3 linked regions of the Homo sapiens genome follow. The protein of the gene in region 2 purifies or fractionates together with the protein of the main gene of each other region. This does not show direct contact. Each region holds a gene or a part of one and is shown on either strand. Other genes may lie near its edges.

The links.
Region 1: the proteins of PHF8 (region 2) and AMPD2 purify together in Homo sapiens (co-immunoprecipitation; 2 studies listed by BioGRID and IntAct, with this or other methods). This does not show direct contact.
Region 3: the proteins of PHF8 (region 2) and GLB1 purify together in Homo sapiens (co-immunoprecipitation; 2 studies listed by BioGRID and IntAct, with this or other methods). This does not show direct contact.

Annotation. Positions count from the first base shown.
Region 1 is NC_000001.11:109,622,730-109,629,836, reverse strand, and holds part of AMPD2 (AMP deaminase 2), read right to left. Parts: intron 5,809-7,107; exon of another isoform or gene 5,748-5,808; intron 4,535-5,747; coding exon 4,404-4,534; intron 4,176-4,403; coding exon 4,045-4,175; intron 3,678-4,044; coding exon 3,609-3,677; intron 3,519-3,608; coding exon 3,410-3,518; intron 3,112-3,409; coding exon 2,925-3,111; intron 2,663-2,924; coding exon 2,521-2,662; intron 2,409-2,520; coding exon 2,319-2,408; intron 2,064-2,318; coding exon 1,934-2,063; intron 1,755-1,933; coding exon 1,560-1,754; intron 1,474-1,559; coding exon 1,342-1,473; intron 1,195-1,341; coding exon 1,031-1,194; intron 729-1,030; coding exon 602-728; intron 511-601; coding exon 347-510; intron 42-346; coding exon 1-41. UniProt on the Homo sapiens protein: AMP deaminase plays a critical role in energy metabolism. Catalyzes the deamination of AMP to IMP and plays an important role in the purine nucleotide cycle.
Region 2 is NC_000023.11:54,034,406-54,041,512, reverse strand, and holds part of PHF8 (histone lysine demethylase PHF8), read left to right. Parts: intron 1-7,107. UniProt on the Homo sapiens protein: Histone lysine demethylase with selectivity for the di- and monomethyl states that plays a key role cell cycle progression, rDNA transcription and brain development.
Region 3 is NC_000003.12:33,066,099-33,073,205, forward strand, and holds part of GLB1 (beta-galactosidase isoform a preproprotein), read right to left. Parts: intron 6,616-7,107; coding exon 6,446-6,615; intron 2,873-6,445; coding exon 2,722-2,872; intron 2,193-2,721; coding exon 2,132-2,192; intron 1-2,131.

The sequences.
Region 1 (7,107 bases), on a different chromosome or scaffold from region 2:
CACAGTGTGGCCTCAGCACAAACGTGTGGAAGCCCCTCTGCCTGGGGGACATGAAGACAGTGTCAGCTCCTGAGCCTGGGATCACCTGGGCTCACCGGAGCCCCTGACCCCCACCCAGCACGCATATGTCCTCCAGCCAATAACTATGCAGGCCTGGGATAAGGGGGACAGGGGTAGATTACTGGCTGTGAGGGGTGACAGATGTAGCTCCAAGGGCAGAGAAAGAACCCATCCAGTCCAGGCAACAGGTGGGTCAGAGGTCTAGTGGCCCTGGCCCAAGGTGCCAAGAGTGAGGTTTGTTGGGCGAGAGATGGCATAGCAAGCAGACACAGGGTGGTGCAGGCACCTGCGCAGGTGGTTCAACATGGCCATGTTGGCAAAGGTGTAGTACAGGTAGTAGGCATAGGGTGGGTTGTCCTCCTCCACCCACGCCTCAGGCAGGGGGCTCTCCAGGTTGAAGACATGGTTTTCAGGCTTGGACTCATCATCCACGCTGTCAAAACCATCCACCTAATACAGAACCCTGGGGTCAGAACCAGAGCTGCAGCTGGATGCGAAGCCGGCTGCCCTCCCCATACCCAGCTCTGCGCTGCCTGCTCACGTGCTCTAAGAAGAGATGCAGTTCCGGGTGGCTGGCAGGGTGCACAGTGGCCTCGAACAGTGGCAGGAAGATGTTCTCCAGCATCTCCTGGAAGTTGGCCAGCTGGCCCTTGGTACGGTACACATCACTGCAGGTGAGACAACATGCAGGTATGTGCAAGTCAGGGCCAGTGGGAGGAAACCCAGCGGTCCAGCAAGGGTCAGAGCTTGGCCCAAGAGCGCAGGGGCGCATCTGAACCATATTGGGAAAGCAAGGATACCCAGGTGGGCCAGGCTGGACAGACCATGGATGGGACCAGGAAGCCCTTCCTTGCACTCAGAGGGGTTGGCAGGGACAAGGGAGGCTCAGCCATCCTAGGAGGGCAGGAGGCAGGCCCTGACCCCTTGAATATGACCCCGCAGGTTCCCCTCCCACTCCAGGGACACTCACAAGAGGCGGGGCACCTGCACCAGCCAGCGCACGTTGGGGGAGTGCACGCGGTGCATGACGGCCCAGCGCGCCAGCTTGTCCCACTCATCCCTCGAGCGCCCGTAAATGGAGAGCCGCAGCTCTGCATTCTGGTATTTGCTCTCCTCCAGGTCTGACATCACCTCCTAGACATGAGGTGAGCTGAGTCAGACATGAGGTGAGCTGAGTCAGAGCTCTTCAGGGGGTCATCTGCCTACCCTCCTTGAGTCTCACCCCCTAAAAGCCCCCAGATCCTCAGGCTCGAGGCTTGGCAGGGAAGGCTGCCTCCTTACCTTGATGATGTGAGCAAAGTACTTCCCAGATACCCTGTTGTCCGTCTTGATGAAGATCTCTCGGAGGACGGACTCCCCAATAGGGTTGTATTTGGCATTAAACTTGTCAAAGCGATGGAAAGTGTTCCTGTCCTGGGGGACATGGGAAGGCTCAGGTCACCCGTGACTCCTGGTCCCCTGACTGACTCAGTCCCACAGCCCACGCCACTGGCACAGACCGCATGCACATCCAGCGTGTCCACACTCAGGTCGTAGGCCGTGAGATTCATGCTCTCAAAGACCTCCCGCAGCGTCTGTTCACGGCCCTGCTCCACGTGCACGATCTCCTCCAGGTGCCGCTTCATTGCCCGCTTGATGAAGCGCAGCAGATGCTTCTGGTTCATGCAGGACGAGGCATGGATGTGGGTGTCCACCTGGAATGGAACAGGGCACTGCTGATCCACCAGAGGCCAGGAAGGTCTGGGGCCTGGGGCAGTGCAATGGGAAAGGACCCTCTGTACTGGATGCTGTGTGGGGGGCCTGGCCCTTGAAGGGGAGGCTGGGCAGAGGTGTGGGATGAGGACATGGAGACGGCCACGGGGTGAGGGCCCACCTTGCGGATGTTGTAGAAATCTCGGTGTGGCACTTTCTTCTGGGCGGCCAGCTCCTTCATCTCATTGAGTAGCACATGCATCTGGAACTTGGAGCTCAGGTACTGCAGCCGGCGGTAGCAGAATGACTTTCTGGGCATGAGGAGAACAAGGCAGGGACTTAGGCCCTGAAGGGAGGCACCTGGGGAGGGCTTGGGTAGCAGATCAGAGGGAGCAGGTGGGAGGGTAAGGATGGAGGCTGCCAAGAGGGAAGTAGACTGCGGGGAAGTCGAGGGCTCAGCAACTAGGAAGGGCAAGACACCAGGTGATGGGAGTCTGGGGCAGAACTGGGGCTGGAGAATCTGGGCTGGGAGGGGAGCTAAGTGTCTGGGATGGCAGGGGACTCACATGGGGCCATTGATAATCAGGGCCATCAGCACATTGACGTCAGCCACAAATTCCTGCAGGTCAGGGTATGGCAGCTCCACCTCTGAGCAACTGGCATGGAGGGGAGCTTGGGTGAGGAGAGCAAGCCGAGCCCTGTGGCCTCTCCCAAGCCAACGCAACCTCCCACGCTGCATCCCCCCAACATGCACCACACCCCTCTTACTGCTCGTCGGGTTCCCTGCGGGTGTAGACGTGCACCACACCCCGCACCATGCGCAGACCCAAGCCCAGGTCCCCAGGCATGGTGCTTGGCTCACAGTGCTCATACGGGTGCTGCTCCAGCGCAGGGGGGTGCACCGGGGCATCTGCAGGGGTGAGGAGGGTAAAGTCAGAGCAGGGCTCTTCCAAGCCACCCACTGCCCAACCCAAAGGCCCCACAGAGGGCAAGAGATGTTGAAGACCCAGTAGGTCAGACAGCTCCTGCCCAACCTCCACCCCTGTACCCCAAGAGGTTGGAATGAGCCTGGGTTGTAGGGAGAGGCAGGCAGGGCAGAGGTGCCCAGGCACCAGGCTGAGAAGCCCAGGAGGCTAGGGCACATGGCATGGGGCAGAGATGGGGAGTCCCACCAGCAGACACAGGGGTGTCGGGGCCCTGTTCATAGGTCCGGGTCTCCAGAGGCTTTTCAGCCAGCTGCTGCAGGTAGCGGCGGGTGGTGGGGCAGAAGCTCTGCAGGGACAGGGCCATGTACTTCTCCCGGATGAAGAGCGCCCGCACCACACTCTTGGCTGCATCCAGCAGGTCTGTGAACGGCACCTGGAGATGAGGATATGCGATCACTCTCCTCAGTCTTGGACTCAGAGACCTCCTCCCTAAGGCCTTATCTTAGAACCCAAACTATCCCCACCTCCCACAGGCCCTGACCCCCAGGAACACTCAGATCACCCTGGTCCAGCACATCAAGTGGCTCCTAGGCAGCCCCTCTGCCCCTCCGCCCCTCCAGCTGCTGGAAAGAGAAACGCCCTTTCCAGCCCCCACCCCCAGCTCTCCAGGCTGGGGGAACCCACTAAGACATAGGTGATGGCGACTCACCCAACATACACCCCATACTTACCCCACACTTCTCCTCCCCAGAGATGGTGACCCGCTGAAACTCCCGTTCCAGCACATCACGCTCCCGCAGGCTCCGGTCACCCTGCCCCTCACCCTGTTCCTTGTAGAGCCTGCAGGGGGTGCATTCAAGGGAGGGGTTTAGAGCCGGCAGAAGGGCAGGCTGCAGCTCCGCATCCCCTGTGCCCCTCTGCCCTCCTCACTGTAGGTCCGAGTCACTGTCCGTCTTCAGGAAATCTTGCTTGGCCCGAAGCAGGATGTCTGGCTCCAGCCTAGAGGCAAGAGGGGTGAGAAGTCAGGCAGATCCCGAGGGACGGCCCTTGCTCCCAGGTCCCAGCACCGCACTAGGTGCTGTGCACATGTTGTCACATGTGATCCTCAAAGGCAGAGCTGCAGAACCCTGTGCTGTTCTCACTCACTTTAGAGATGAGAAAGCAGACCCATAAGTTAAGCAACATGACCCAGCCACACCGGCGGCTAGAAGACAGAACAGAACCCAGCAGCCCGACTCCAAAGCCCACTCTATGCTCCCTGTGCAGACCCCCCAAGGCAGGGTGCGAGGGAAAGAGGCAGAAAAGGGGCTCTGAAAGGGTCTGGAAGGGTATGGAGGGAGACTAAGCAGCTGCCTGCCGGGCTCACTTGACATCCTGGCTGATCTGCCGCTCCAGCCGCTGCCGCCGCTCCTCCAGCTGTTCAATGGGGCTCTCCTCGGGGAACTCATACGGGGCACTACGGAGCTCGCTCTCAGCCAGTGAGCGGGTGAACAGCTCCTGGGGGGAGGGAAGGAAGGTCAGCATGGCTGGCCCTCCGCCCTCGGGCACTCTCCTACAGAGTCTGGGGATGGGGTGAGGGCAGCAGGACCAGGGGTACCTGGGAGAGGCTGAGGATCAGGAGACAGCCAAGCGTGAGGTGAGGGGACAGCTTGAGGTGAGGGGTGTGGGGAGCAGAGGCAGGGCATGGAGACACGGGGTGAGGGTGCGGGTGGTGCCAGGTGATACCTCGGCGATCTCCTTGCATTTGCCATCCATAGACGTGCGCAGGTCGAGCGGGAAGTGCTTGAGGCAGGGGGCGGGGCCCGGCAGGGATCGGGCAGACTGCAGCGGAGGGGCCCCCAGACCACCCCGAGCCTCTGCAGAGACAGTGATGCCAGGGTCAAAGGGTGGAGGGGCAGCCCCTGAAAGCCCTGGGCCCCTGCCCTGCCTAGGCCAGCTCCCGAGAGAGCCCAGGGTCGGGAAAGAGGGCAGTCCCTCCTCAGTAGCTGAGGAGTAGGCCTGTGTGTGTGGCTCCCAAAGGGCTCACCCTCACCTCTAACGCAGGGACCCCTCACCCATTCCAGGCTTGGGGTGGGGATTCTGAGTCTGCCCCTAGAACAAGTAGATTCATTACCTCCACAAATGAGACTAGAGCCTGATCCCTCAGGCCATGAGAATCTCCACGTGACTACCTCCCAGAGGCAGGTGCACGTGTGTACGTGTGCACACACATGCACGTACGCACACAGACACCCTCAGAGACACACACCAGGTGCTTGGTAAGGACCAGGCGGCCACACCAGGGACCCCCAGCCTGCAGCTCCCAGGGCAGGCAACCCAGGATCAGACCCGCCCCTGGACTAGCAGATTCTCCACTCAAAGGGGCAGGGCCCTGTGCCTGACATCCTAGACCTGTGCAGCACAAGAGAAGCCGCAGCTGCTGCTCAGCTCTGACCTAGGGACGAGCCCTCAAGGGAAGAGGAGAGGAAGTGGAGGGCCTGGTTGGCAAGGGAACCCTACCTCCTCCCTGGAGGCCCGCCCTGTCCCCCAGGGCCCCAGGGCTGCCAAAATGTGGCCTGGCCTTAGCCTGCCCCTCCAAAAGGAGCTGCCACAAACAGTCTATGCCACTCAGGCCCCAGGATCTGGACCGGGGGCACCACAGAGGGCCCTGGGGAAGGGAGTGTCAGAAGCCAGGGGTCTTTCTTCATCAAGACTAGACTTTCCATCTGTACCACGAGGAGGCTGGCACCAGAGGGCCGTGAAGCTGCTGGTCTATGGGGGCTGCCAAGGCTTCCAGCCTACCCCGAAGGACCCTCCCTGGGCTCAGCAGCCCCAGCTCCTCAGTGAGAAGCTTTCCACACCCAAACTGCCTCTCTCAGCCGGCTGTAAGGAGTGCTCCCCTCCAGCACCCTCCACCCTGGCTTAGGGAAGGATTACAGGATCTGCCTAGGTAGCCGGCCTTAAAGTCTCTGCGCCCATTTCCCAATACTCCAGGACTGGTCCCAAAGCTGGACAAAGGGAAGAGGGAGGGGCCTGCCCCAGATCCAGGACCCCGTCCCCTGCGCACCCCGGCCCCTGCCTGAACCCTACCTGCAGAGTGCAGGCAGCTCCGGCCAGCAGCCCTGTGCCCCTTGCCCGCCTGTTTGCCAGTGAAGCTGCAGCCGGTCCCTCAGGGGCTGGCACAGGCTGTACCAAGTGCAGCTGCAAGCAGGGGAGACCCTGAGATGGCCGTGAGCACGGAGCTAGGGGAGTTCAAGGGAGCCCAGAAACCAAGGGAAGGAGCATCAGAGTTGGGAGATAAGACGAACTCCAGAACTGAAGAGGGCCTCCACCTCTACAGTGCCAGGGAAGACCCAGCCAGATGTGAGGCTCCTAAGGGGGAGTAGCAGGGTAGGCTGACTTGGGCAGGGCAGGCCGACAGGGAGGAGCCAAGCCTCCTTAAAATCCACTGCCCTAGGGGACAGTGAGTGGGCAGGGCCTGGCTGGCCAAAGAGTAAGAGGGGAGAAAAAGGAGGGGAACAGCGCTCTTCATCACACCCACAGCCCCAGGTTGGCCTCTTCTGGCAGTGGCCTTGTTGCTCACCACTGTCCTCTGGGCCCTGATTATGGCATCCCTCAGGAGAGACAGGGCCTTTGCTGGGGTAGGAGCTGGCTGGCAGCTGGGGAAATGGCCCAGTCTAGGTAGGGGCCAGTCACTGAGGCTTCCCCGCTGCCCAGCTGCTCAGGGGGCTGGTTCGCAGGCCCCTAGACCTGCAACCCCTGATCCAAGCCTATCATCAGGGACAGGACAAACTGTCCAGAATAAGTTTGGGAGAAAGGGGGCTAGAATTTGGAGAACATGGATCTGATTCTGTTCCTGCTTCCGGGCATGTCTCTACCTACCTCTGGGAGGCTTTGGGTCCTCATCTACAAGTGGGGCGATAAGTGGTCCCTTCCCTGCCTAGCCACAACTGCCATAAGGCTCACAGAGATAATGGCTCTGCAAGTGTTCTGCAAAACACCAGGCTCTGTGTTGAGGCAAGGCCTGCAATTATGAACTCCTGGGACCCTCAAAATACATTCTACCTGTAGCCCCGCCCACTGAGGACAGTGGGAGGTTCCCTGGGCCCAGTGCAGGGCAAAGGCAATAGGCCAGTAAAGGGCAGTGAAGTGAACTTGGCAGGAGTGGAGATGGGGTGACTCTATCTCTTACTTGGAAAAGGACAAAGTGGGAAGAGGAAGAAAAGAGGGGAAGCTGTCTCACCCCCAGAGTGTAAGATCTTTTCTTGCCCGAGAACCCTGATTTTACACACCTCCTCCCTACATATGGCCCCAGACCACTTCTGACTCCTTCTAGGGGAGGCCGACCACAGACCTCCATGGCTGGTTCATATTGGGTCAGCAGGAGTTGAGTCAAAGGCTCAAATCTCAACCCCCTCTCCTAGCAGGGGGGTCTCAGGCTCCACAGCAA
Region 2 (7,107 bases):
AACAAAACAGTGTATGGCACCCTCCTCCTGTTGCTTGTTAGATTCTAGAATTTTCAGTTGTCTGGTCTCCTCCAGAGGGGCTATTTCTTTTTCTTTTTTTCTTTTTTCTTTTTTTTTTTTTTTTATTTGAGACAAGGTCTCACTCTTGTCACCCAGGCTGGAGTGCAATGGCATGATCTCAGCTCACTGCAACCTCTGCCTCCCGGGTTCAAGCGATTCTCGTGCCTCAGCCTCCCGAGTAGCTGGGATTACAGGTGCACGCCACCACGCCCGGCAAATTTTTTTGTACTTTTTTGATAGAGATGGAGTTTCACCATGTTGGCCAGGCTGGTCTCAAACTCCTGACCTCAAGCGATCCGCCCGCCTCAGCCTCCCACAGTGCTAGGATTACAGGCATGAGCCACTATGCCCAGCAAGCTATTTCTGTTTATCACACTCAAGACCAAACTATAGGTGCTGGTGCTGCTAAAATCCTGCCCTCAGCAGGGACTGCCCCCTTGCCCCGTATCCAAATTCATGTTTAACTGATCTCTATTGAATATTTATTGTGTGCCCGGCACAGAGTTCTGTTTTACTGCCTCATGTTATTTAAGAGGGGACAACCCTAGAGGGTGGGACCTTTTCCTTTGCCCTGAAAATAAGTGGGGATTAAGATGTCTTTCAGGATTCCTGGTGTCTTTGCTAGTGCTGATCAAGTCACTCCTCAGCTTAACATTCTTCTTTCAGTGGTTCGTCTCTGGGATAAAATTCAGTATCCTTTATATGACAGACAAGACCTTTTGTGATCTACTTGTTTATTCTCATTTCCTGCCACTCCTCCTCTCTTGTTCTTTATGTCCTAGCAAGACTGAACTACCTATAGTTCTGGGAAAATTTTATACTCCTTTATGCCTTTTTGTCTTTGTACGTGCAAACTCCCACTAATGCCCTCTCCCCTTTGCAACTCACAGACTGTAAAAGGTGTAAAAGTCCTTCTTCCTCTTGGTTCCCATTGCACTTTGTGTGCGTCTTTATTAAAAAGTAATTATTTAATCATATCATAGTTATAAATATATCTGTGTCATTCGTTAGCCAGAGCTTCCTGAGGGCAGAGATGTCTTCTTTTCATTTTTGGTATCCCCAGAACCTAGTTCAGTGCTAAACATGTAATAGATGCTGAGTACATTTTTGAATGAGTTAATGAGTCTTCATGAAAAAAAGCTGTTGCCTGGGGCCCTTACTTTGGATTGTATGGGAAATGTGTAGGTTCAGACCTGTAAAATGGGCTCCTGCTAACTCCTCACTCTGGAAACAGGGAACAGGAATGAATGCTTCCTGACTGCTTATGTCTGCCGGACCCCATGACAGGGACTTGGGACAAATTATTTAGTCTATATGCAAGCCTGAAAGTTGGATATTTCTCTTTTAAATAATGTTCTTAATTTTTTCTTGCTCTTATAGTGAGACCTGCTTGTTGTAGAAAACACAGAAAAAGAATAAAGAAGGAAATATAACTCACCTAAGTCTACTACTGTCTGGCACAATCCACTGTTAAATTTGTTGTTGCATTAACTCCCATCTTTTGACTTAGAATATAAACATATTTTTACAAGATGGGATTGCGTTATAAATACCATTTTACAACCTATTTTTTATTTCTAGTTAATGTTACAATGTAATTGCCAGTTCATTAAATATTCAGCTAAACTTGATTTCTGATATCCCACAATATATATGTGTCACCGGTTAATTTGGTAATTTCCTTTATGGTTGGACATTGTACTTTTTTGAACATTATTTGTACTTTTTTATATTATAAATAATGTGAGGAAACTTTGGGCGTTCTGGAAAGGTTTTGCATCTTGATATGAGTGCTGATTAAAACAAAAACATTATGGAAAGCATCTTTGCCTAGTAGATACTTGACATTTATTTATAAGGAGCACCATTGAGGCCTTAAAGAATTCTAAACTTACAAATACAGAAATGGGCTTATGGGCCAGGCCCCTCTTTAATCACATTTCTGTGGTGAGTTGTGTGTTTCTGTGTACACTCTAACACAAGTTAACTGCCTTAATTTTTTTCCATGAAATACACCAAATTTTAAAAATCTCTTTTGCTTCTCTCTATGGGCCCCCACTGAACAAGGAAGCTAGCTGAGAATCAGGTCCTTGGGGGTGGCTGCTCTTGCTTACTCAGTGCATTGCTCACAGAAACACACCAGGCTTATAGTGCGCCATTTAAGTTTGTACTTCAGCACAATTGGAAATTACTACATACTGTGGACTTTTTATGGTTGCTTGCAAGAGTTAAGCCAACAAATTTTAAATCCACAGATACCTAGAGGTGATAGAAATCTGTTCATATCTCTAGTGACTTCTTTTTTTTTTTTTTTTTTTTGAGACAGAGTCTCACTCTGTTGCCCAAGCTGCAGTGCAGTGGCACGATCTTGGTTCACTGCAACCTCTGCCTCCTGGGTTCAAGTGATTCTCCTGCCTCAGCCTTCTGAGTAGTTGGGATTACAGGTGCGCGCCACCACACCCGGCTCATTTTTGTATTTTAGTAGAGACAGGGTTTCACTATGTTGGTCAGGCTGGTCTCGAACTGCTGACCTCGTGATCCACCCACCTTGACCTCCCAAAGTGCTGGTATTACAGGTGTGAGCCACCATGCCCGGCCTCTAGTGACTTTTGTAGGATAGATTTCTTGAAGTCCAGCTAGGGATTATGGAATATAATGCCAAGTTACTTTTTGGAAAGGTTATAACAAGCGAGGCAACTATTCCATTTTGCAGCTGAGAATCTGGAATTCGTGGAAGTTAAGTGACTTTCTGAGTGTGGATTTGAACTTTGAATTATTTGATTCCAGAGCCCAGGTTCTCAGAAGTGCAAAAAACATGGTATTGCTTCATTCTTCCTGTAAGAAGCTGGATTTTGCAAAAACACTTTGATTTGTACAGCGGTGGTTCTCAAACTTCAGCATGTATCAGACTCACTTGGAAGACCTGATGAAACACAAGTTAGGGATGCCCTAGCTACAGTATTTCTGATTCAGTAGGTAAGAAGGGCCCACCCTTGAGAACCACTGATTTAGAACATTATCCTGTCTTGATTCCTTCCCCTTCTGCGGAGTGTGATAGCTTCTGATACTGAGGGATGGATGGACTAACATATCATTACTGTACACCAGTCATTCTCTTTTTTTGGTACAGAAAAATTGGAATGAACATTCTTTTTATATTATTCTTTTTTAATTCCTAAGTGAGCTAACACAGGAGGAACGACCTTTTTTAAAGTACAGTTCATCAACTGGGAATTTGTTCAAAATGCAATTTCTTGGGCTAGGACTTGGACTCAGCAGTCTATATTTTAACAAACAAGTGATCCTGATTCACCCTAACATTTGAGAATCATTGCTGTACAATAGTGGAGAAAACTAGTTGGCAAGCATTTATTGATTTCTGGGATTTTTAGCACAAATTTCACTCTACAGTTTTCCTGTTTATAAAAGAAATATTGGTTGATACATGCCCAAGGGAATAACTTTGGTGTGGATTTTTAACTCTAGAGGAAAGGACACTGATTTCAGATCTGGGTTCAAATTCTGATTCTGTTACATATTAGCAAATAATTTCTTATCTGTGAAGCCTTAGTTTCCCTGAGAGGTTGTGATGATTTAAATAAAATGGTTATAGCTATCGTTTATTGAGCACAAGCTAGTGTTCCACTCACTATGCTAACCACTTCGCCTAATTATCTTTATCTTTTGGGGGAGTTTTAAAAATTATTCCATTTAGTAGTTATAGGACTATTCAAATTACCTATTTTATGTTGGATGTGTACTTTCCGAGAATTGACCCATTTCATCTAAGTTGTCAAATTTATGTTTGTAGAATTGTTCATAGTATTTCTTTATTATCCTTTTGATATCTTCAGGTGCTGTAGTGATAATTTTGTTTCATTAGTGATACTAAAAATGTATCAGGCTGGGCATGTGATGTCATTCATGCCTATAATCCCAGCACTTTGGGAGGCCAAGGCTGGTGGATTGCTTAAGCCCAAGAGTTCAAAACCAGCCTGGGCAACATGGTAAAACCCCGTCTCTACAAGAAATACAAAAATTAGCAGGGTGGGTGGCACATGCTTATAGTCCCAGCTGCCCGGGAGGCTGAGGTGGGAGGATTGCTTGAGCCCAGGAAGTTGAGGCCTCAGTGAACTGTGATCATGCCACTACACTCCAGCCTGGGTGACAGAGCGAGACCCTGTCTCAAAAAAACCGAAAACAAACAAACAAAAAAAATTTGTCTTCGTATTTGTCAGACTTGCTAGAGGTTTGTCAGTTTTATGGATCTTTTCAAAGAACAAGCTTTTTGTTTCATTGACTTTTTCTGTTGTCTTTCTGTTTTCAATTTAATAGATCTCTGCCTTTACTATTTTTTTCCTCCTTTGGTTTATTTTGCTCTCTATCTAGTTTCTTGAGGTGGGAGATTAGATTATTGATTTGAGACTTTCTTTTCTTTTTTTTTTTTTTTTTATTTTTTCTGAAACAGCCTGTTGCCCAGGCTGGAGTGCAATGGCGCGATCTCGGCTCGCTGCAACCTCCACCTCCCGGGTTCAAGTGATTTTCCTGCCTCAGCCTCCCTACTAGCTGGGATTATAGGCGCTCGCCACCACGCCCAGCTAATTTTTTGTATTTTTAATAGAGATGGGGTTTCACCATGTTGGCCAGGCTAGTCTCGAACTCCTGACCTCAGGTGATCCACCCGCCTCGGCCTCCCAAAGTGTTGGGATTACAGGCGTGACCCACAGCACCCGGCCTTTCTTTCTTTTCTAATGTAAGCCTTTAGCTGTTAAGTTTCTTCTCAGCACCAATAGATTTTAATATGTTACATTTTCCCTTTTCATGTAGTTCAAGGCATTAAAAAAAAAAAAAGTTTTTTTTTTTTTTTTTTTTTTTTTTTTTGAGACAGTGTCTCAGTCTGTTGCCCAGGCGGTACTGCAGAGGCAGGATCATAGCTCTCACTGCAGCCTCCAGCTCCTGGGCTAAAGTGATCCTCCTGCTGCCTCAAGGCATTTTTAAATTCCCCTTGAAACTTCCTGTTTGACCCATGAAGTATAGAAGTATGTTGTTTAATTTTGAAGTTTTTGTAGAGTTTCCTGTTATCGTTCTGTTACTGACTTCTAGTTTGATAGTGGTCAGAGAATATACTTTGTATGATTTCAATTCCTTTACATTTATTGAGATTTGTTTTATAGCCCAGAGTCTATCTTGGTAAATGTTTCATGATCACTCGAAAAGAATGTGTATTCTGCCATTTTTGGGTAGAGTGTTCTATAAATGTCAATTAACTACTGTTGGTTAATGGTGTTGCTGAATTCTTCTAATCCTTGCTGATTTTTTCTTTTTTCTTTTCTTTTTTTTTTTTTTTTTTGAGATGGAGTTTCGCTCTTGTTGCCCAGGCTGGAGCGCGATTTGGCTCACCGCAACCTCCGGCTCCCAGGTTCAAGCGATTCTTCTGCCTCAGCCTCCTGAATAGCTGGGACTACAGGCATGTGCCACCACGCCCAGCTAATTTTGTATTTTTAGTAGAGACGGGGTTTCTCCATGTTCGTCAGGCTGGTCTTGAACTTCTGACTTCAGGTGATCCGCCTGCCTCGGCCTCCCAAAGTGCTGGGATTACAGGTGTGAGCCACTGCACTCGGCCTACTCATTCATTCATTCATTTATTTTTGAGACAGGGTCTCTATGTCACCTGGGCTGGAGTGCAGTGGTTTGATCATGGTTTACTGCAGCCTCAAATTCCAGGGCTTAAGCAATCTCCTCATGCTTCAGCCTCTACAATAGCTGAAACTGCAAGCATGTGCCACTGTGTGCCCTAATTTTTAAAATTTTTTGTGTGGGGAGGGTGTGGGTGTAGGTTGGTGGTACCTCCCTTTGTTGCCTGGGATGGTCTTGGACTTCTGGCTTCAGATGATCCTCCCACCTCAGCCTCCCAAAGTGCTGGGATTACAGGCATGAACTACTGCTCTTGGCCCGAGTTATCTCTGTATTGCTTTTTTCAGTACTTGCTCTAGGTATTACATTATACATATAACTTACCATAAGCAACTGCTCTTGACATTTTACCAGTTTGATTGAAGAGTAGAAACTTTACTTTTCTTTTTCCTTTTTTTTTTTGAGACAGAGTCTCACTCTGTCACCCAGGCTGGAGTGCAATGATGTGGTCTCGGCTCACTGCAACCTCTGCCTCCTGGGTTCAAGCGATTCTCCCACCTTAGCCTCCCGAGTAGCTGGGACTACAGGTGTGGTCCACCATAGCCGGCTAATTTTTGTATTTTTAGTAGAGACGAGTTTTCACTATGTTGACCAGGTTGGTCTCGAACTCCTGACCTCATGATCTGCCCGCCTCAGCCTCCCAAAGTGCTGGGATTACAAGCGTGAGCCACCATGTCCGGTTGAAACTTTACTTTTCTTTATATGCCTTAATGCTCTTTTGTTTATAATCTAATTAATCGTTTTGTTGTTGTTGAGACAGAGTCTTGCTGTGTTGCCCAGGCTGGAGTGTAGTGGAACAGTCACGGCTCACCTGCAGCCTAAACCTCCTGGGCTCAAGTGATCCTCCCACCTCAGCCCCCCACCCCCCAGTAGCTGGGACTACAGGCATGCACCACTATGCCTGGCTGATTTTTTTTTTTTTTTTTTTTTTTTTTGAGACGAAGTCTCGCTCTGTCGCCCAGGCTGGAGTGCAGTGGCGTGATCTCGGCTCACTGCAACCTCCGCCCCTCCAGGTTTAAACAATTCTCTGCCTCAGCCTCCAGAGTAGCTGGAATTACAGGCGCCCGCCACCACGCCCAGCTAATTTTTTGTATTTTTAGTAGAAACGGGGTTTCACCATCTTGGCCAGGCTGGTCTTGAACTCCTGACCTCAAATGATCCACACGTCTCGGCCTCCCAAAGTGCTGGGATTACAGGCATGAGCTACTGTGCCCAGCCTACTCATTCTTTTAGGATAAGTGTTGGCAACAGATACGTTTAGTTTTCCTTAATCTGAGAATATCTTGATTTCCCTTGAATTCTTAGGGGATCTTTTCACTTCATATCGAACTCTGGGTTTCTAGTTCTTTTATC
Region 3 (7,107 bases), on a different chromosome or scaffold from region 2:
AAAGTTGTCCTGCATGTAGTTGTCTCCTCAGCTGAGCTCCTCAGGGGACGAGGACCAGTGTGCCTGTATCCATCTGCTATGGTTGGAATGTTTGTCCCTCTGAAACTCATGTTGAAATCGAATCCCCAATGTGGTAGTATTGAGAGGTGGGGCCTTTAAGAGGTGTTGAGTCATGAGGGCTCAGCCCTCATAAGTAGATCAATCCACTCATGGATTAATAGATTAATAGGTTAATGGATTCATGGGTCATCATGGGAATGGGACTGGTGGCTTTATAAGAAGAGGGAGAGAGATCTGAGCTAGGACACTCAGCCCCCTCACCATGTGATGCCCTGTGCCCCCTCAGGACTCTGCAGAGTCCCCACCAGCAAGAAGGCCCTCACCAGATATAGCCCCTCCACCTTGAACTTCTTGGCCTCCATAACTGTAGGAAATAAATGCTTTTCTTTATAAATTACTCAGTTTCAGGTATTCTGTTACAAGCAACAGAAAACAGACTAAGACCATCCTTGCCACAGGACACAAAGCCTGGAGCATAGAACATATCCAAGCAATGTTTGCTGAATGAAGAAAAGAGTGACTGAACAGTGTATCCTCTTCTCAGTCACAGGAAGGCTTTTTTTCCGTATAAAATGAAGTTCTAATAAATTCTATATTTATATTGTCAAATAGGAATAATAAATGTACATGCCACATAAAGTTGGCATAAAGATTAAATGAGTTACCACAGTGAAAACACCAATAATATGCTAAGCGTGCAAAACATGAAGGTACTGGAGTAAGACAAAGAAAAAAACTATCATTTACACATTGCTCTATAAAAGTGGCCAGAATATAGAAGGCATTGCAGCTACCAAGCAATCCAATGACACCATCCCAGAAACTGTCATTTTGTTTTTATTTCTTTTTTTTTTTTTTTTTGAGACAGAGTTTCGCTCTTGTTGCCCAGGCAGGAATGCAATGGCGCAATCTGGGCTCACTGCAACCTCTGCCTCCCAGCTTCAAGCAATTCTCCTGCCTCAGCCTCCCGAGTAGCTGGGATTACAGGCATGCACCACCACACCCAGCTAATTTTGTATTTTTTAGTAGAGACAGGGTTTCCTCATGTTGGTCAGGCTGGTCTCGAACTCCTGACCTCAGGTGATCCACCCACCTCGGCCTCCCAAAGTGCTGGGATTACAGGCATGAGCCACTACGCCCGACCTTATTTCTTTTTTTGAGACAAAGTCCCTCTCTGTTGCCCAGGATGGAGTGCAGTGGTACAATCATGGCTCACTGCAGTCTCAACCTCCCAGGCTCAAGCAATCCTCCCACCTCAGCCTCCCGGACTACAGGCATGTGCCAGCACACCTGGCTAATTTTTATAGAGATAGGGTCTCGCTATGTTACCTAGGCTGGTATCAAACTCCTGGGCTCAAGCAATCCCTCCACTTTGGCCTCCCAAAGTGCTGAGATTACAAGTGTGAGTCACCATGCCTGACTTGTCATTTTGATTAGCGAGGTGCTATCATTGGCTGTGGAATATGCTAAGTAAATAGGAAGAGAAAGCACTGAAGTCAGTTGGTCAACCGCAAACAGGGTTCAATACCAATTCAAAGAATTACCAGTTTATCAGTAAGATCTGGTTACGTAGTTCAAAGCCTAATTTCCTAGAGGTTTAGTTTGTTGCTATGCACTGGTCAGTGATAAACACTCAGACTTTCACTAAACTTTCAAAAGTATTTGTGCAGAGGTACCCCAGCCTTCAAAATACCTCCCCCTTTTGATATAAATTGTTGAAGCTTTTTTGTTTGTTTGTTTGTTTTGAGACAGAGTCACGCTTTGTCACCCAGGCTATAGTGCATTGATACGATCTCGGTTCACTGCAACTTCCGCCTCCAGGGTTCAAGCAATCCTTCTGCCTCAGCCTCCTGAGTAGCTGGGATTACAGGCGCCCACCACCATGCCCAGCTAATTTTTTGTATTTTTAGTAGGGGCGAGGTTTTGCCATTTTGGCCAGCCTGGTCTCGAACTCCCAACCTCAGGTAATCCACCCGCCTCAGCCTCCCAAAGTGTCAGGATTACAGGCGTGAGCCACCGCACCTAGGCTGAAGCTTTTATAAATCTTCTCAAGACATCTGTAACAACCTACCTGGGTCGGAGGAGCGGAGAAGAATAGACTCTTTCTCTAGCAGCCAAGCAGGTAATCCTCCCTAGTTCAGGGAAAACAAGCCATTATAATGTCTGTTCCGTGAAGGGTGCTCAGAGGAGATAGAAATTACTATTAGTAGTTATGGAAAAGAATAAAAGCTTCAAGGGACAAGGGGTATTTGAGCTGGGCTTTTTGGTTTATAACTTGCAGAGAAATTAGAAATTGGAATGTAGGACAATTAAGATCACTCTGCATGAATGCAATGTTTTAAGGACCAAAGCCCTTTTCATAAAGATTTTTCAATTTAATTTCACAAATACCCTGTGACGTAGATAGAGAAGACACCATTAACTGCTTCTTACAGATGAGCAAGCTGAGGTATGTGAGTGACCACCAAGAGGAGAGCCCATGCCCTGACCCTGGCCTGTTTCTCTGCCTGGGCACCTTGTCAAGGTAAAAGACACCTGTGCTGGGTACAGTCCCAGGCCCCATGCTCTCTGGAATGCAGGTCTGCTTTAATTCCCTTTGCCCCAGAGCTGCTGCCTGCCAGCTCACACACACCAGGTAGAGCCCAGTCTAGCCACACTCACCATTTCCCACTCTGCACAGATGTAGGGCCCGGGCCTCAGGATAACCAGCAGTCCCAGCTCATGAGCCAGCCGAAGAAAATATTCCACATCATGGTCCTCAGAAAACTGGTACTGTCCTGGCCAGGGCTCATGAAAGTTCCAGGGCACATACCTGCCAAGACACACACAGCCCCTTCCTGGATACTTGGCAGAGTCAAGAAGAAAGAAGCGTGGGGAAAGGGCCTCATTAGGACTATTGCTAACACATGGATAAGAGGGAGAAGGCGCTTTGAAAGAAAAATTATCCAAGGCTGGGCACAGTGGCTCAGGCCTCTAATCCCAGCACTCTGGGAAGTCACGGTGGGTGGATGGCTTGAGCCCAGGAGTTTGACACCAGCCTGGAAAACATGGTGAAACCCCGTCTCTACAAAAAACACAAAAAAATTAGCCAGGGTGTATGCCTGTGGTCCCAGTTACCCTGGAGGCTTGAGGTGGAGGTTTGCTTAAGCTAGGGAGGTTGAAGCTGCAGTGAGCTGTGATTGTGCCACTGCACTCCAAACTGGATGACAGAGTGAGACCCTGTGTCAAAATAAAGAAAGAAAAGAAAAGAAAAATTATCCAGAATTTGGATATAAGGCAAAAGGGTGACTGCATTTCCTTTCCATGTTATAATGGAGGACTGTCCAATGGGCCCACTGAGGCTTCCTTCATTCTCCAGGGGAGATATTTTGTTTGACTTACTATTTACTATTGATTAAGGGAAGAACTTTGAAGTTACAGATTAATTTGTAGATTATTGCCTGAGAGAGAAACAAATGATTGTCATACAGAGAAGACAACTCTAAAGGTTGCTTTTTCATTCATTGCCCTTTATGATACTAACCAGTTTTATCTCTAAAGATAACTTTATTTGAACATGACTTTCTTGACTGACCGTAAACCTCCCTTCCTCAAATTCTCCTTTGAATTAGCTTTACCATCTAGCTAGTTTCCTCAGTAATAAGTTAAATAAATTTTTAAAAACTTTTATTTTAGGTTCAGGGGTACATGTGCAGGTTTGTTATACAGGTAAATTGCGTGTCATGGGGGTTTGGTGTACAGATTATTTAGTCACCCAGATAATCTGCCTAGTACACGATAGGGGAACTCACCCTCCTCCCACCCTCCACCCTCAAGTAGGCCCCATTGTCTGTTGTTCCCTTCTTTGTGTCCATATGTACTCGATGTTTAGCTACCACTTATAAGTGAGAACATGTGGTATTTGGTTTTCTGTCCCTGTGTTTGCTCAGGATAATAGCCTCCAGCTGCATCCAGTTTGCTGTAAAGGACATGATCTCATTCTTTTTTGTGATTTTTGTAGTATTCCATGGTGTATATGTACCACATTTTCTTTATCCAGTTAAATAAATTTCTGACATATGTCCATTATATACTTGTTTGTAAGTCAGGTTTTTAGCTTTTTGTAATTATATTTTGCATAAATAATTGAATTGAGGTGCTCTGTGGAAGGGGAAAGAGCTCAAAAATCCAGTATCCTACATAAATTTCTAAACTGTCTATAGAGAAAGATATGGTGTAGAACCATAAACCACAGGACACATAGACCTTCCCGCTTGGCAGCCTCTTGGGAGGGGCCTTGTTATGAATTTTTACAGCAGCTCCCCAAGCTAGTCAGACTTCATGGGGACACTTCTTAAAATCAACAACAACAACAGAAAACTCCAGAGTTATATCAGCACTAATTCCTATTACATAAAAATTATAGCTGGGCACAGTAGCTCTCTTCTGTAATCCCTGCACTCTGGGAGGCCAAAGCAGTAGGATCGCTTGAGTCCAGGAGTTGAAGACCACCATGGGAAACATAGTGAGACCTCATCTCTAAAAACAAAGCAAAACAAAAAAATTAGCTGGTGTGGTAGCAGTGCCTGTAATCCCAACTACTCAGGAGGCTGAGGTGGGAGGATCACCTGAGCCCACTTTAAGGTTTCAGTGAACTATGATTGAGCCACTACATTCCAGCCAGGTGACAGAGCAAGACCCCAGCTCTAAAAAATTGTTTTAATAAATAAAAATAAAAATTATATATGTCCATGTGAGGCTTAGGAAAAATAAGAATATTTTGCTGAAAAGTAGTAAGAGACATATTTATTTTTTGAAGAAATAATTTTTAGTACGTGTAGGAAAAACTCCAAGCCCTAGATCCTCTGACAAAAGATTTTGTCAGGAATCATGTGGCAGGAGGTAAAATGACAAAACCTTCTACCAGCTCCTCTGTCTACCTACAGACAGCATGGGATACAAAGTTAAATATGGAGCCATCCATTACCATCACAAAGCTCTCTTTGAAGACCCTGGGTTGTGTCATTTTGCGTGTGTGTGATCCCATGATTTCAGGGTTCCCTGGAACAGTCTTGGTCTTCCAGAACTCACTGTCGGAATTATAAACAGGTGAACTTGGGTTCACTCTGCCAGTGGCCTTAGAACCAGAATAATGAGCGCATTCTCCCTAAGTATCTATCTTCGGAATCTGCCTCTGGGTTTTCTCACTCTTCATCTTTGAGAAGTTATCAGCAATCCACATCAGCACTGCAAGAGCCAGAGCAGCCAGCCACACCAACTTTCTTGCCTGTTAGTTAGTTACTTTGCAATAGCAAAAGAGATGCAGAGAGATAGCTATTGGGATAATTCTACACCCTGAAGTTATACAATTACCGCAGCAGAACCACAAAGCCAAACTGGGTTTCAGAAATCTACCTAAGCACAAGGCTTATTCTGTTATTGGGGCTCAGAAAACAATACCCCAAAGTATGGCACCTTGGCATGCTAAGTACTTTGAACTAAAGGAGATCGGAAGGCCTTAGAAGCAAATCTTCTTTCTCTGGCCTTCTCCTGCTCTTCTGTTGCCCACCCCTCCTTCTCCCCTGAAGCAAGTCAAACCAGAATTCATCTTCCCCCAGTGTGGGTCATAGAAATTAGAACCCCTCTCTCCCAAAGCAAGCCAGAAAACCTAGAAAGGTCACCTCTCCCTTCTCCCTTCTAGACCCTCATTGCAGAGGGGTCCTGCTCCATACCCAGAAGGAAGGAATGCCACCCAGAAAGGCCAAGAAGAATCTGTTGAGGCAGGCCTTGAGGGTTTCCCACTTCAGTCCACCACCATTAGGTCAGAACCTTTCATGGAATCTAAGTGTAAAAAGTTTTCCTTGGGTCTTCTTTTCTGAAGACTCTCATGTCAGATAAAACTTACATATCTGTTATGCTTTTCTCCTGTTAACCTAGCTTTTTGTATGACTACAGCCATACCTGTGCTACAGCTGCCTGCATGCCTTCCCTTCCCTTCAAATACTAGCTGAACCTCTGACCAAAGATATGGCCTTGGGCAAATTTCAGTTTCACCAGCTATAAACAGGAACAATAATACCTATCTCGAGGAAATGGAATCATTAGTATAAAGTGCCCTGTATCTGGTAAGTGCTCAATCATTGTTACTTCTGTTTGCTTCCCCCATCCTTTTCCTTTTTAAGCTATTTATTTAATGATTTCTGATGATTAAAATTGAAGATTGGAAGAAGTAGTTAATTATTTGAAAAAGGGCCAGTCCGGCTCATGACAAGCCCCTCCCAGAACATCACACTGGACCATTTCCCATTTCTGAGCAATAAAATAGCCACCCTGAGAAATACAGTTGTATCTTCTCTCCAGAGTGGGTGTTCAGGCCTAGGTGAGAGCCACATGCCCTCCTACTTACGTCTGGATGGCGTTCAGCCCAGCCATCTTCATCTTCAGCAGCCGGTCCTTCCAGTAGAAGCGGGGCACACGGGAGTAGTGAATGCTTCCTGAGATGTAGCGAAATGGCTGGCCATCCTTGAGGAAGGAGTCCCGGCTATAGTCAATTTCAAACATCCTCTGGGTGGCATTCTACAGAGCAAGGATGGGGTCACATGAGAACTTCCACCTTCTGCATTTCAGAAGCCGATCCTTTGAGAGTAGCAAGTGACTCTCTGCCTATTGAATTTGTATAATGTGCTGATGGACTTAATGCTTGTTTTCTGAGCTATCATACAAACCATTGCTAAGCCAGGTCCACCAGGGGTACTCAGGTAAGAGAAATCATCTAAGAGGATCCACATGCAGGATTCCATAAGGCTTAGCTTCTAGAGGCCAGCACTGAGCTGACAATCAGTGGCTGAGATGATATTCCACTGTGCTGTTCATGGGGCTGGGGAACATCACACACACACACGCATGCACGCACACACGCCATTGTTGCTGTGACCTGCCTGAGCACTGGATGCACCTCAACAACAATGTCACTGGGATAACCAAGACCCATTAACAAAATTCTAAGTGTAAAATACAGGGCAAAAAGCAATGGATTAAAACTCCAGAGCCTGACGCCCCATCCTAGAT